Regions from separate parts of the Homo sapiens genome. Here region 2 is linked to region 1. The links come from fine-mapping of genetic effects on gene expression. Tissue or cell type: sigmoid colon. Region 1 holds a variant in brackets; the other region holds the start of a gene. All regions are shown on one strand. Distances are between the middles of the regions.

Evidence for each region. PIP is the estimated chance that this variant, and not a neighbour inherited with it, causes the effect.
Region 2: VAMP3 starts here. The variant in region 1 is fine-mapped to the expression of VAMP3 in sigmoid colon (GTEx, PIP 0.94).

Annotation. Positions count from the first base shown.
Region 1 is chr1:7,272,461-7,280,565 of GRCh38, forward strand. The region is part of intron 5 of CAMTA1 (calmodulin binding transcription activator 1); the gene reads left to right. Among named protein-coding and RNA genes, the nearest start is that of CAMTA1-IT1, 88 kb to the right of the region's middle. The variant T/C (reference allele first, on the strand shown) is at 3,299.
Region 2 is chr1:7,766,620-7,774,724 of GRCh38, forward strand. It overlaps VAMP3 (vesicle associated membrane protein 3), which reads left to right and starts at 4,677. Exons shown (of 5, transcript NM_004781.4): 1 at 4,677-4,766; 2 at 6,823-6,892. The coding sequence starts at 4,765. It overlaps CAMTA1 (calmodulin binding transcription activator 1), which reads left to right. Exons shown (of 23, transcript NM_015215.4): 23 at 1-3,087. RefSeq lists enhancers at 3,881-4,577, 4,321-4,370 and silencers at 4,604-4,846, 4,811-5,040.

The DNA of each region.
Region 1 (8,105 bases):
AGTTGGAGAACTAAAAATTCTCAATTTCAAAACTTACTGTAAAGCTATGGTAATCAAGTCAGTGAGGTATTGGCATAAGAATAGACGTATAAATCAATGGAATAAAATTGAGAGTCCAGGAGTAAGTCTTAGCATTTATGGTCAATTGATTTTCAACAAAGGACCAAGACAATTTAATCATGATAGAATAGTCTTTTCAGAAAGGTTCTGGGGCAACTGGATAAACACATGCAAAAAAAAAAAAAAAAAAAAAAAAGAAAAGAAAAGAAAAGAAATTGGACCCCTGCCTCATACCATACAGAAAAAATAATTCAAAGTAGATTATAGACCTAAATGTTAAGAGCTGAAACTATAAAAGTCTTAGAAGATAACATGGGAATAAATCTAGTGACTTTAGGTTGAGAAATGATTTCAATGTTTAACATTCTGAGGAATTCTTAGAACTTAACAATTAAAAGAAAAATAATAGAAATGGACACATAATTTGAATAGATATTTCCCCAAAGAAGATATATGAATAGCCAATTAACACACGAAAATATATTTAACAGCATCATTAATCATCAGAGAAGTGAAAACCACAACAAGATACCACTTCTTACCCACTAGGATGGCTATAACAAAAAAAGAGAGATAATAGTAAGTGTTCACACACGTGGAGAAATTGGAACCCTCACACACTGCTGATGGTGATCCAAAATGCTGGTGCTGCTGTGGAAAACATTCTGGCAGTTCCTCAGAATGTTAAACATTGAGTTACCAGAAGACCCAGCAATTTCACTCATAGATATGTACCCAAGAGAAATAAAAGCATATTCACAGAAAAACTTATACCATTATTAATCATAGCAACAAGTCAAAACAACTCAAATGTCCACCGACTAATAAACAAAATGTAGTCTATCCATACAATGAAATATTACTTGGCAATAAAAAGGAATGAGGCACTGATAACATGCCACAACGTGGATGAACTTCTAAACGTTATTCTAAGTGAAAGAGGCCAGTCACAAAAGACCATATATTATGTGATACCCTTTATATGAAATGCCCAGAATAGGGCAACCTATAGAGACAGAAAGCAGATTAATAATTGCCTAAGGCTGGAGGTGTGTGTGTCAGGTAGGGATGAGGGGTGACTGCTAATGAGTATTAGGTTTCTTTTTGGGGTGATGAAAATGCTCCAAAATTAGCTTATGGTGACAGTTTCACAAGGCTGTAAAATACTAAAAGCATTGAAGTACACTTCAAAGAAGTGACGTTTATGGTGTATAAATTATAGCTCAAAAATATGTTTAAAATAAGATAATTGATTGTCTAAAACATAAGTAATAACATTATATAGAAGCAAAGTGTGTGACAACAATGATACAAAGGAAAGCAGAGGGAAGTGGAAGTATATTGTTGAAAGATTCTTACATTTTTGGTGAAGTGCTCTAATATTTGTTGAAGGTAGAATACTATGATTGAAGATATATATTGCAAATCCTAGAGCAAACTACTAAAAATGAAGAGATATAGGAATAAGCCAATAGTGGATATAAAATGAAAGACTCAAAAATATTCAAATTAATGAAGTCAGGAAAGAGGAATATGAAACAGGACAAGTAGAAAACAGTGTTAGATGGTAGAGATAAACCCAGCCATATACATAATTGCATCAACTGTAAATGGCTTAAGCATTCCAATTAAAAGCTAGAGAGTATCAGACTGGACAAAAAAACCATAATACTCAATGACATGCTTTCTACAAGAAACACTTTAATAATAAAGGCACAAATGGGTTAGAAGTAAAAAGATGGGAAAAAATAGAGTGTGCAAATACTAACCATAAGAAAACTAAAGTGAATATATGATCAAGCAGAGTAGACTTCAGGACAAGAACTATTACTCAAGATAAAGAGAGATATTTTATAATGATAAGAGGGTCAGTCCGTTAGGAAAACATGACCGTCCTGTCTATGCACCTAATTACACAGCTTCAAAATACATGCCAAAGTGACAGAATTGAAAGGAAGAATGGATAAATTTCACAATTGTAGTGGGAGATTCTTTTCTCAGTGATGCATAGGAGACAGGAAATCAGTAAGGACATTGAAAACTTGGATAACACTATCAAACAACTCGATCTAATTGACATTTTTGAAATAAATACCCAACAGTGGCAGAATATACATTCTTTTCTTACACATAGAACATTTATTAATATAAACTATATACTGTGTCATAAAACAAATCTCATTACATTTAAAAAGATTACTGCTTCTCTGACAGTAACTGAATTAATTTAGGATTCAATAGCAGAATAAATATCTGAAAAATTCCCAAATATGTGGAAATTACACAACATACTGCTTAAGGTAAAAGAAGAAATATTATAAAGGAAACTAGAAAATATTGGCTGAGCGTGGTGGCTCATGGATGTAATCTCAGCACTTTGGGAGGCCAAAGCGGGCAAATCACTTGAGGTCAGGAGTTCGAGACCAGCCTGGCCAACATGGTGAAACCCCATCTCTACTAAGAATACAAAGATTAGCTGGGCATGGTGGTGGGTGCCTGTAATCCCAGCTACTTGTGAGGCTGAGACAGGAGAATTGCTCGAACCCAGGAGGCGGAGGTTGCAGTGAGCCGAGATCGCAACACTGCACTCCTGCCTGGGCAGGGAGACAGAGTGAGATTCCATCTCAAAAAAAAAAAAAAAAAGAAGAAAGAAAATATTTTGAAATGAATGAAAATTAAAACCCCACATAGAAAATGTATGGAGTACAGGGAAAGCAGATATTAGAAGGAAATTTATAGTTTGAAGTGCTTACACTATATTTACATTAAAATCAGTAAATGTAATTGATATTAACAAAGGTTTAAAATGTGACCTAAACTTTTACATGTAGAAGCTAGAGAAAGAAGAACCAATTAAAACCAAAATAAGTAAGGAAAAAGGTAATATTAAAATAAGAATAAAATAAATGAAATAGTAAGTAGACAAACAATAGAAAACATTAATAAAACAAAAAGCTATCTCTCTTCAAAGATCAATAAGTTGAAAAATTATAGCTAGCTTGATTAAGAAACAGAGAAATATACAAATTATTAATATGAGTAAAAAGGATGCATCACTACAGATGCTATACACATTAAAGGTAACCTAAGAGGTGTCAGAAAAGGATATCATGAAAATTTTATGGAAATAAATTTGGCAACTTCAATGAAATGGACAAATTTCTTAAAAGATAAAAATTCTTAAAACTGACACAAAATGGAAAATCTGAGTAGCTCTATATTTATTAAATTAAGTTTG[T/C]AATTTAAAATCTTTCCCCAAAAAGAAACCTCCTTCATGGTGAATTTGATTTAAAAAAATTTAAGGCAAGAATAATGTTAGGCTTACCAAACATTTTCAGAAAATATAGGATGATAGAACACTTGTCAGGTCATTTTATGACACCAGGATATCTGATACCAAAACCAGGTAAAGACGTTACAAGAAAACTACAGACCAATATCTCTCATGAACATAGATGTAAAAATCCATAACAAGATATTAGCAAATGGAATGCAGCTATAAGTAAAAAGGATAATACACCACGATTAATTATGTTGATTGAAGGTGTGCAAAGTTGGTTTAACATGTGCTAATCAATGTAATTAATTGTATTAACAGAACAAAGAATATTGACCATATAATCATCTCAACAGATGAAGAAAAAGATATAATTCCATACCCATTCATGATTAAAAAAAAAAACCTTTCAGCAAACTAGATATAGGAGAGAATTTCCTCAATCCAATAAAGGAAATCTACAGAAAGCCTACACCTGATCATATATATATATATATATATATATATTTTTTTTTTTTTTTTTTCTTTTTGAGACAGAATCTTGCTCTGTCACCCAGGCTGGAGTGCAATGGTGTGACGTCGCCTCACTGCAACCTCCGCCTCCTGGGTTCAAGCAATTCTCCTGCCTCTAGCCTCTTGAGTAGCTGTGACTACAGGCGCCCGCCACCATGCCTGGCTAATTTTTGTATTTTTAGTAGAGGAAGGATTTCACCATGTTAGCCAGGATGGTCTCAATCTCCTGACCTCGTGATCCGCTTGCCTCGGCCTCCCAAAGTGCTGGGATTACAGGTGTGAGTCACCGTGCCCAGGCACCTGATCATATTTAATAGCATATTCTTGTACTTCCTTCTAAGACTGGGAAATCATCAATGTGTCCACTTTCACTGCTTCTATTCAATATTCTACCGGAGGTCCTAGGAAGTTGAATAAGGCCAGGAAAAGAAATAAAAGGCATACAGATGGAAAAGAAAGGAGTGAAATTCTTTTTATTTGCAGACAACATGATCATGTGCATAGAAAGTGTTAAAGAATCTAATAAAAATTACTGGAACTAGTAGATGAATTTAGGAAGGCCAAAGGAACAAGGCCAATATTTTTTTGAAGTATATTTTCACATATTTGCAATGAACAATTGGAAAACAAAGATAAAGAAAAATACAGTGTAAAATAACATAAAATATTCCTTGAAATATTTTAGGATCAAATTAACAAAATATGTAAGACCTGTACCCTTAAAACTATAACACATTGCTGACAGAAATTAAAGAAGACTTAAATAAATGGAGTGATATACCATGTTCATGGATTGGAAGACTCAGTGTTGTTAAGATGGCAGTTCTCTCCAAGTTGATCTATAGCTTCAATGCTATCCCTGTCAAAATCTCATCAGACTTTTTTGTAGAAACTGGCAAGCTATTTTTAAAATTTACATATAGCATAAGAATGACCAAGAATAGCTAAAAGGATTTATAAAAATCAAAGTAAAGTTAAAAGAATTGCCCTACTTAATTTCAATACTTAATCTAAAGCTACAGTAATCAAGATGATGTGATACTGGTATCACTGAGTTGATATTCCAAAGAGGTAGATTTCAGGGTTCAGTTTCTGAACTTTCTGAGGAGCCAAACTAGAGAACTAAATTAATCTTTCCAAGCAATGGTGTGTGTGTGTGTGTGTGTGTGTGTGTGTGTGTGTAAGAGAGAGAGACTCATTCTCATTCTCATTCTCATTTTTGAATTAACTTACAGATAAACTGAGTTTCCCAAGAAGGCCCTCCATGGCAGACTATATATCATCTCCTCTCTATCTCCCCCTTCTCAGAATAAAAGCAGTTTTTTCTTCTTTATGGTTTGAAAATGAATTTATATTTATTGTAGAAGACTTCAGATAGTAGATAAAGACAAGGAAGACATTGATATAATGGCCTATGATGTCCATCTTTCTGAATGCTTTTCACATACACACACATACACACACTTTTTTTTTTTACTAAAATAAGGGGTTATATCATATATGCTATTTTGTATTTTTTTACTTGACTCCATGTTAAGTGATTTACATATTTTTAAATGACTCTGTGTGATATCATATACTTAACCTGTTCACTGACATTAGACATTGAGACTATTACTACTATTTGCCATTAGAAATCACACCGTGAGAAAGATCCTTGTATCTTTATTTATAGTAAGCCCTCAACAAATATTTATTTGAGGAGTTACTAGGTACCAGGCTTTTCATACCTGAACAATTGTTTTCTGGAGAATATTCCTAGAAATGAAATAGTAGTGCTGGGTTAAACGATATAACTGCCTAAAAATTAGCTCCATATGGCTACATCATCCTTCAGAAAGGCTGTGTTAATTTACAACTGCTCTAGGGATGTTTGAGAAGTCCTGCTGATTAACAAACATGCCCCACCCCACAGGACTTGGCGCAGGGTGGGGGCCACACCTGGTGCCTAGTGTTATTGACTTAGTGATGGGTGAAACCTTTTGTTCAGCAAAAGTCATTTGTACCACATCACCATGGGGATGTGTGTAAAGCATTCATCTAGCTCATGGAGGGGAACTGTACAGCTCACTCTAGTGTCTTCTCAGAGTTCTGTAGTAAGTTTTCCAACTTGCCATTCTGCCATTTATTAACTACAACAATAAAAAAATGGAAGCTACCCTTTACTACAATAAGTGCTTTTCAGGCATTATCTGAATTTTACAACAACTCTGCAATGTTTCATCGATGAGAAACTGAGGCTCAGAAAGTTTAAATAATTTCCAAGGTCACTTAGCTCGTCACAGATCCGTGGATCAAATGCCAGGGTCCAGCTCTTTCTCTAAGTCCAATCCTGAGTTTTTGACTTGAACTTGTCAGTCTTCGTTTTCTAATCATCCTGATTCTGGGGTTCATTTACTCTAGAAATATTTATTGAGCACCTTCCACAGGCCAGGAAGGGGAATAGTGGAGAGCTGCGTTGACAAGGTCTTGGCCCTCACGTAGCTTCCAGTCCGGTAGAGGAGATACAATTTAATCATCCAATTGTATGAAAAAACTGTGATTACTGCCATAGAGGAAAAGTGCAGGAACTCTAAGATCTGAGAGCAGGAGGATATGATCTAATCTGGGGATCAGAGAGAGAAGCTCTGAAGAAGTGATGTTTCACTGAGGTTGCCAGTTAATGGGGCTGGGGAGGGCCATGAGGAGAAGGGGAAGGCATTTGGTGGGGGAAAGGGATATGCAAAGGCCCTGGGGGCCTGAGGAAGTGTGTGCTGGAGGAAATGAAGGGTGGGCAGTTCAGGTACTTAGAGCGCAGAGCCTGAGGGGGCTGGTGAGCAGGTGGGCACTGAACCCCGCAGTGCACCTATGTGAAAGTGTTTGGAATGTAACCTGAGAACGATGGGGCCCATGAAAGCTTGTAAGCAGGGCAGTGTCATCCTCTGATTATTGTAAAAACATTGCCCACGCTTCTGCCAGGCACATCCACTGGGGTGGGAGGCAGATTCACATGGGAGGGATGACTTATTGGTTAAAATAGGTGGTCCCAGTTCTGTTTCTCTTCTCCTTATTTTTCTTTTCTGGTGAGTTTCTTCTCCCTGTGCTAACATTCTGGGCCTCAGGCTTAAGTAAGAGGCAGATGGCCCGGGTCTTGGAGCAGGGAAGCCAGGGGACCGGCAGCCCCAAAAGCTGTCAATGTCATAAGTCATCCTTGCAGAGCCGCAGCCACCTTCTCGGCAGAATGTCAAGCAGCTCGGTACGGGGAGCAGCTGCTCTGCATGGCTCTGAGCATTGTCAGAACACCATAAACAAAATGGTCAGGTTTCTGCAGAGATAACCTCCTGGCCTCCGACCCCATGCGGCACCGTGCCGAGGGCCAAGCTCTCTCTTCGGCATCTGTTTTTGGTACTTCCAAAGCCCACAGTGTGGGGCTTTGGGACGTTTTCAGCCTGAATGCTAAAATGCCTGGAATCAAGGCAAGAGGAGGACTTTGAGAGTTGGCTTCCCTGTGTCTGTTCCCTGGAATGAGAAGAAGCCTGAGCTACAGCCTCAGGTTACTGCTGGTGGTCCCTCTAGACCAAAAAAAAAGAACTTGCCAAGAGAGACCCTTAGTATCCAGAGTCCCCTCCTCTCCTGGGGTTGGAAGGGAGAGCAGGAAGAGGGAGTGGCCTCTATGCCAGCCAGGTCCAGAGCGGGAGGGAGTGAATTGCACCAGGGAAGGAGCCTGCTCGTTGCTGGTAGAACTTGCAGCATCCAGACAGACCTCTCAGCCCTCTTTGGATGCCTTTATCCTTGCAAATGTCAGAGATGCTGGCTTTGCAAAAACCAAAAACCAAAACCCAGTAACCAGTCTTCCCAGCCTGATGTGTGTCTGTGCCCTTTGCCCACCTGGGCACTGAGGCACCAAGGCACCTGGCCTCACACTCATTTCCTTTGCCCCATCTGGCTCGCCAGTCAGCGAGAAGCCCTCTGGTTTTCTGAATTGCGCCCACCAGGGAAGGAACACTGAAGATTTCATCTAGTCAGCTTTCCCTTGGCTCATTTGAGGAAGTGCTAGAATGCTTCCCAAGCTCCCTGCTTATAGGGTAAGACCCTCCTGTCCCAAGTATGACATCCCTGGGGTTAGTAAAAGTCTATGACCTTAAGAAGAGGTTTCTGCAGAAGCAGCTTGGCTCTGGCTGTGCACTGCTGAGTGTAATGGTGGCAGGATGCTAAGGGTGGGCCCAGGGTGCCACGTGGATGTCAGAAAGAGCAACCAAGGGCAAGCCCTTCTTGG
Region 2 (8,105 bases), 490 kb after region 1:
CAAAATCCCTCTGCAGTTTTGGGGAGATCAGCTGCAGGATTTTAACAGGAATGTTTTGGTCATTGCATTTGCACTTTCATGGACAACTTTTAATTTGATCAGCAAGACATCTTGGAACTCAATCTTCTGTTGGATCACGGGAAATCAAGACACCCAGGAGGAATTGAAAGAGGCTTCCTCTTCTCAGGAAGAAGCCATTTCCTTCTCATATAGGGCTGTATTCAAACATCGTGTGGAACTGTACAAATATTTATACCAAAAATATAGATAAGAAAAGGTGGGGCTATACTAGCAACAAAAAAAGAATGCTGTTCCTGCACCTGCCGGTTATTTCCAAGAAGCTGAATCTTTGGGACTGATTCTCAGTGGAGGGCTTAGATCATACAAAAATCTTTATTGGGTCCGTGTGTTCTCATTTCCTTCACTGTTTATTTTTGTTTGTTTGTTTGTTTGTTTTAATCTCTACAGCACATTTAATGCAACTTTTGAAATCTGCAGGTTTTTAATGTCTTGTGGAAATTTGCAGAGGGGCAGGTGTGTGGTAAACGGGTAATGCATGGGAAATAATGAGAAGCAGCTCACAGAGTTTAAACTATTTTCTTGTCCCCACCACCTTCCAAGAACCTGCGAGGGTAGTAATCATCTTGTCCCCTTTTTCATGTTCAGCACTTTAATTTTTTTGCCTTACTTTCATGTGCAATGAGAATTACTTAAGAATTGGTAACGCATGTAGCCTTTTTTAGTAACCTTGGAAGCTGTAGTAATTCTAAGGAATCATGAACCTTGCCTGGACATTTGCCACCTAAACGATCAGTGTGGTGCTGCGTTCTGGCCAGTAAATTCCATGTTTTTGGCTATATCTCATCCAAACTGAGCAGTTTCTGTGTATATATAGAAGGTAGAAATGAAAAGTGAGAAAATATTTGAAAGGGATTATATTAATTGCTAAATATTTTATTCACAAAGGTCAATAACATGGCAAGATAAAATTATTTGTATAGTTTTGTCTGAATGAGCGAGAAAAATGTGGATGTACTGTTTGTATATATTGTATATATTAAAACAGAGATATGTGCATGAAATCAAGAAAAAAGAAATGAACAAAAGCAAAGCATTAGTGGCTATGGTCTGTAAAATGAAACAAAAAAACTTTATTTCACTATAAGAGTACTTTATTTTAAATGTTCTTTAGGAGAACATTTTGCTAAAGCATGACTAAACTGCAAAAAAAAAAAAAGAGCTACTGTATTTAGACTTAGGAAAAAAGGCAGAGTAACATTACTTAAAAAAAAAAGGATATGTTTACATTTAATTTTGGCTACCAGGAGTTTAGTTTATTTTATTTAAAATTTTTTTGCCAATGGTGCCAAGTAATGTGAATGCTAATACTGCTTAAGAAAATTAAGTTACTTTTGCAAAACAGATAATCATAAGATGAATCAGTATGTAGCTTAACACCATCCACTCACTCCAACAAAGAACACTTAGAATGATAAAAAAAAAAAAAAAAAACCTGACAAAAGAAATAGTATGAAAAGTAGAAAAATGTCACGTTTCCATATCTCCTGCTGGAAATCAGAAAATATAATAAAATTGCACAAAAAAAAAAATGAAAAAGATGCAGACTGGTCTTTTAGAGACGGCATGGTATATTACTATTTCCACATAATGAGGAGCCAAAGAAATCTGATGTTTTTAACAATTAAACTGCTAATGTTAAATTGAGAGAATAAAGTTCGTATTTGCTGATGCCAGTTTAAAATTCCCAGGTTACGTCTGAGGATCAGTTGGTGTAAAGCTGAGATGTTTTTTCTTGGTTCTGGCTGCCAACTGTGAGTTAAAACTCAAGGCTTGTTGTGAAGCCTAAAAATATTCACAAATAAGCTTTTAAACTGGTGTCTTTGGAAGGAAGGTAGATACAAAAAGATTGTGGTAAAAACTGGGGTCAGTGCTCTTGGTGCCTTTTCTATAATTGTACTTGTTTTTTAATTACTTCCTTTCACTGCCAACCTCGAATTACTGTACAGTATATGTCTTTCTGCTTGTGATCAGCTTTGACAACAGTGACAGCCCCACAACTAGTAGCCACCTGTACATTTGTAAACTGACCTGACTCCATTTTGTTTTTAAATGTGTGGGTTATGTTGCAGCTGTTGCAGTCCCCCAGATACCTATTATTTTACACAATTTGACCTATAGGAGGACACTGAGTAATTTACAAACACAACTGCATTCATAAATGGGAATAGAACGTGAAAGCCAGCTCTTTCAGAATATCCTCTATTAATACTGAATTTAGATATCTTTATTCCATTTATTATGGTACAAATAACTGATGTTTTAACCAGAGTAATGACCTCAGTGGATTTGCTTTAACCCTCACATTTTTTTTTTAATGTTTCACATGTTACATTATTAGCTGAATACGTTAGAAAATGACAGATGGTAGAGACTTCCATAGAATTAAGAGGGTTCTCATGGAGGGGATAGGAAGTAGGTTTAAAGCCTACCAGTGTAACCTACCAGTACAACTGTGAATCCTAGGCGAGGCAAAAATGCACTTCCACTGAAACGAAGCATTTCTGACCGCTTTTTCTTGGTTATGAATCTTAATTTCGAATATAAGATGATAGGTAAGCGCAGCTTTCTTGGATAATCTGAATTCCCAAGTGCCAGGAGTAGGATTTCATTATAAAATTAATAGCTAATCTTATTCTATCTCCTGAAGATTTAATTGCTATTGTTACCCATTCGAAATCAGCTGTACTGTGTGAACGAAATAAAGACAATAATACGAACCCCTCTCTGGCTGCACGGTCGCTTATGGCAGTTCCACACAGTAGTTGGCGCCCAATGGGGGGTCCCTGAGACTTGCATGTAAAACTAGTCTAGATGTCTTCTTTTTTTGTAAGTTTTATTTTTGTAATTGTGCATGTAAAGCATCATTGAATCAATGGATCTGTTGAAGAACTCAGCTGCTGGAAACCATGCAAAATGTTTTGAATTGCCCTTAAAATATGGAAAATGTTTTCTGAATGCTTTATATTCTTTCTGCTGTAAATTAAAAATGAAGAAAATTTCCCCATACTACGTGTGTGTTTTGCTTTAATATGACCGGGTAGTGAAATCTAAGGTGATGGGCACATGTTTCAAAACATATGTAATAATGTCAAGGATTTCCTTCTGATCCAGATGTAATGTTTTGACATTGAATGTTACATTGTTTCAGCTAGGTCCATGAAAGAAAAAATGTCTTCCAGCCACCATTCAGAGAGCTTTTCCCCTATCTTTCCAGGCACCTCTCAACATGTCAATCATTTGTGTAAGGCAGTGCAATTATTTGAAAGATAAAGACATTAATTTAATTCACCTTTTCAGTTACAATCCTCTAAAGTCTTCTAAAAGGCATTTTCCAGCAGATTACGAACGTCGTCCTTTCTGAGTATTGTGTCATCGCCGCTCCCTTCCCGTTCACTGCAGAGCCTCTCCTTATCTCCCTAGTGCTCCCTCTTCCATCTAATCCATCTGGCCACTACTGCCAGAGAAATTTTGCATCATGGATCTCCCACGTCCGTAAGTCAATGGTTTCCAGGGCCCACTACAATTAAATGACATTTTTCTTGTTTGTTTATCCTCTTTATTCAGTCTTCTTTTCACTTGTACCCAACCTGCACCCTCTAGGTGGTCTGTGCACACTGCGTCCATTTTCACTGCTGTCTTTGTTCATGGTGTTTGCCCAACCCTTACTTGGAAAGTTCTTTTCCACTAGTACCCAGCTCAAATCCCACCGCCTTTGTGACACTCGTTTATTCGATATATACTAACGTTTCCCTTTTCAAAGTATTCTATTTAGAGTTGGAAAAAACAGCATAGTATTTAAGTACTGTATTTTTCACTTCTCATCTAAGAGACCCACCAATGACCTATTAGTGTTTTATTTTTTGGTGTAGGTAACTATGTTGGTAGGAATATTTCAGTAACAAATATATACAAGGTAACTCACTGCGTTCAGATTTGTGCTTCCCTCCCTTCGACCAAAACCTGAGGACCTATTCTGTGCTAGGGCCTGAAAATACAGAAATAAAGGAACTACAGCCTTGATGCCAAGGCTCTCGTAAGCAGATTATAATATGATCTGCAGTGACAAATATTTGTGTCACCGATGAAAACATGAGCGGGAACCTCACCCAACACCATGTGACAAATACCCGAAATGGACTTCCTATTTCAACTACTTTAGAGAAACATGGTGCCCTCAGGATCACTAGGTTACTCTGGAACACTCAGCAGAAGCCAGTCATCTGTCTCTAATACTGTTAGAAATGGTCCCGAGCCCAGAATAACATGAATTGCCCCCACCCTCACTTATCCACGCAGTCCCTCGCCAGTGGCTAATGCACCACGTTTACAGACCACGTCCCCAAGCGCCAGCGCGGACGGCGGTGCGGACAGGGAGCTGTATTGACCTGCGTTCTGCGTTTCAGAGCCCGGACCGCCCTGGGACCCCTGTGGCCCTCAAGTTCCCAAGTGACCTCGTCCGGGGAGGGGACGTCTCGCTCTGACCCCGCCCTGGACGCACCCACCCACGACGCCCCCGCCCACTTCCGGCGCGCCCCCTCTTCGCCCCGCCCACTCCCCCGGCTCCGCCTAGTGACGTCTTTGCCCCGCGCCGCGCCGTCCCACCCATCTCCCTGGCCTCCGGTCCCAACTTCGCTTCTCTGCTGACCCTCTCTCGTCGCCGCTGCCGCCGCCGCAGCTGCCAAAATGTGAGTGACGCTACGCGACGCGGGCGGCTTCGGGCCCCGCAGGCGGCAGCTCGCGCTGGGACCGCCATACTGCCCAGTTGCCGCCGGCCGCCACTCGGACGCAGGCCGGGGCTGCGCGGGGATCCCGAGGCCTGGGGGTGGGCGGTGGCCCTTGGGTCGCGGGCTGCAGACGGGCCGGGCGGGTCCCGCGGCCATCGGGCGGACGCGGAAGGGGCAAGGGCGGGGCGGCGAGACGCTTCCCGGAGGAAGTGAGCTGCCCGCCCGCAGCCCGCTCCTCGCCCCTTCCCTTTCTAGTCCCCGACGTCCCTGAGAGGAATGGGGACGACAGCCCTGGTTCGGGAGCGCCCGCTCTCGGCCCGGTGCTGCGCTGGGCCCCAGAAGTTGCGAAAGAAAGGACCTCGGCCCTGTCCTGAGCCCCTGTGGGCCGAAGAGCTCCTTGCCTAGCTAGGGGCATCTGCACTGGAAAGATCACTTAACCGTGGGCCTTCGCTCTCTTAAGCGAAAGCACGTTGCAAACCCCTGCTTCCAGTGGTAAGACTCAGAGAATGCTAATGGTTAAGAATCACAAGGACTCCCTCTTCCACCTCCATTCTGCTCATTGCTCACCGTCGGAGGAAGCCCCGGGTTTCTTCCAGGAGCTGGGGACCCCCCTCGAATGTTCCTGCTGAGGCTGCTGTGCCAATAGATCACAGTGGTTAAGATCTAGAGCCAAGGTACACAGGACCTGATCTAAAAACAAGCTGTCCTGCAGCCAGCTGTGTTGACTCTCTAAACCTCACTTTACTCATTTGTAAAATAGGAGTAATATTCCCCTCAGAGAGTTATGAGGGTTAAAGGAGGAAAAGCATGGAAAGAGTCTAGCGCCACGGCATGGTCCTTACTTATCTACCAGATACTAAACTCCGTGAGGACGGTGATGAGATCTGTTGTAGCCCTGGTCATTGACACATGACAGATGTAAAGTGACTGTTCAAACAGCCCATCAGACTGTTGTATACCAAGGCACATGCTAGGTGCTATCTAGGATACAGAGAAGAGAGTAAGAAGACCCAGGAACCTGTGATCTATTCGAGGAGGCGGGACTTTATACCTGAAAAACCAAAGTGATACTTTCCAAGTAATGGAGCCAATAATGACTTCAGAGTCAGAGTGGTTAAGAAAGATCTGCATGGGGAGAAATAAAGCCTTTGATGAAGATTTTAAAAGATGAGTACCTTCCTGGGCCGGGCGCGGTGGCTCATGCCTGTAATCCCAGCACTTTGGGAGGCCGAGGTGGACGGATCACTTGAGGTCAGGAGTTCGAGACCAGCTTGACCAACATGGTGAAACCCCGTCTCTACTAAAAAATACAAAATTAGCCGGGCGTGGTGGCACATGCCTGTAATCCCAGCTGCTTGGGAGACTGAGGCAAGAGAATTGCTTGGACCCAGGAAGCGGAGGTTACAGTGAGCCGAGATCGCGCCATTGCACTCCAGCCCGGGCAACAGGAGCGAAACTCCGTCTCTCAAAAGAGGGGGAAAAAGAAAGAGTACCTTCCTAAAAGAGGAGGCATTTCTTCAACACACCTTTCCACTCACACCACCCACTCCCTGCATCCCAGTGTTCCTGACTCTGTTTCTGTAAATTAATCTATTTTTCCATATTGGAAAAAGGGCATTCTGTAACTGTTTGTAACTATGAAAACAGTTCCTTCCACAATGAAAAGATCAGGAAAGTACTGAGTACATTCAAGCAGATGTGTGCCTTAGAACAAGTTTCAAAAAAGGACAGTAGAGCTTACCTATCGTGGGATCAGATACTTCAGGGATACAAAGTAGGTCCTATTAAAGCTTAACATTTGTCCCTTTAGTAGGTGGGACAGTCTTGGAAATTATAGAGAAATTAGAAGAAATGCAATTAAAACTTTCGTTCATTGCTTCAGGAAGAATTTCTTTTTCTGTTTTAGTTCTAATGTAAGAGATTGTTAACAGTGAGAGTCCCGGAGTAACATCTTTATACTTAAGAAAATGTATTTGGAATCGTAATGTACTCATGCTCATGCCTTTACATGTTCCAGGTCTACAGGTCCAACTGCTGCCACTGGCAGTAATCGAAGACTTCAGCAGACACAAAATCAAGTAGATGAGGTATTGCTCTGAAATGTTGGAAATATGAATTTTAAACAAATATGAGTACTCTGGAAATCTGTTTAGAAAAAGTATCATCAAAGTGTGAATGTAAAGCAAATTCTGACTGTATCATAATTGTAACGAAACTTTGCTCCCTGCTGTGCTGGAAGATCTAATCTAAGCAAAAGTCAGACTTTCTAGGTTTCACGCTTGTTTTCCTGTGATAGAAACCTGCTCATAACATTTAGCTCAGGAGAAATAAAAAATCATATGCCTAAAACATGAACATCACTCCCTGAGTGCATTCCCCAAGAAGCACTTTATAAAATCGGATAATACAATGTTAAGGATTAGGTCTTTAGATTGCTCAAGCCAAGACCAGTTCTTCTGATCAGATTTTTTTATCAAAATGCTTTGTCTTCTTACTAATTGTCCAGCCTGAGCAAGCCTCTCTGTAGAATTCATCTCTAATGGTTGTCCATTGACACACACAAAGTAGATACTGTCAAACTCCATTAGCTCAGCAAATCTCTGTTTGTAGAATTCTTGAGCTAGAGGACCTCCATCTTTTGTTCTGCGCCGTATGTGGAGAACCACAGCAGAAGATTGAGAAATTCAGACTAGTGTTTCCACATTCCTAAAAGCCGTCACTGTCCGACAAATATATTTCGGTCTTTCTGCATTTAGCTGCCCTGAAAAAACAGTTAAAGTTATGTCAGATACTGTTGTTAAATAATATAGTAATGTTTTGATCTGATGGTTTTGTTCATGAACTTATACAATTTTAGATTTTCACAGTAAGAAACCCATTGTAATTCTGTCCTGCCTGGAAATTCTGTTTACTTACAAAATCAAATTGGATTTTTTTTTTTAGCCAAAGGAATTTTAAGGAGAGTTGTTTTTTTATTGAGGCAAAATTACCATAACATACAACTAAACATTTTAAACTGTATATAATTGAGTGTTATTTAGTATATTGATAATATTTTGCAACCATTACCTCTTTCCATTTTCAGAACTTTTTCATCACCCCAGAACACCTCATGCCCATTTAGTAATCATTCACTATTTCCCCTTCCTCCCATTCTCTGGTTACCTCTAATCAGCTCTCTCTTTCTGTGGATTTGCCTGTTCTGGGTATGTCATATAAAAGGAATCATACAATGTGTGGCCTTTTGCATCTGCCTTCTTTCACTTAGCACAAAGTTTTTTGCATTCATTCAAGTTGTAA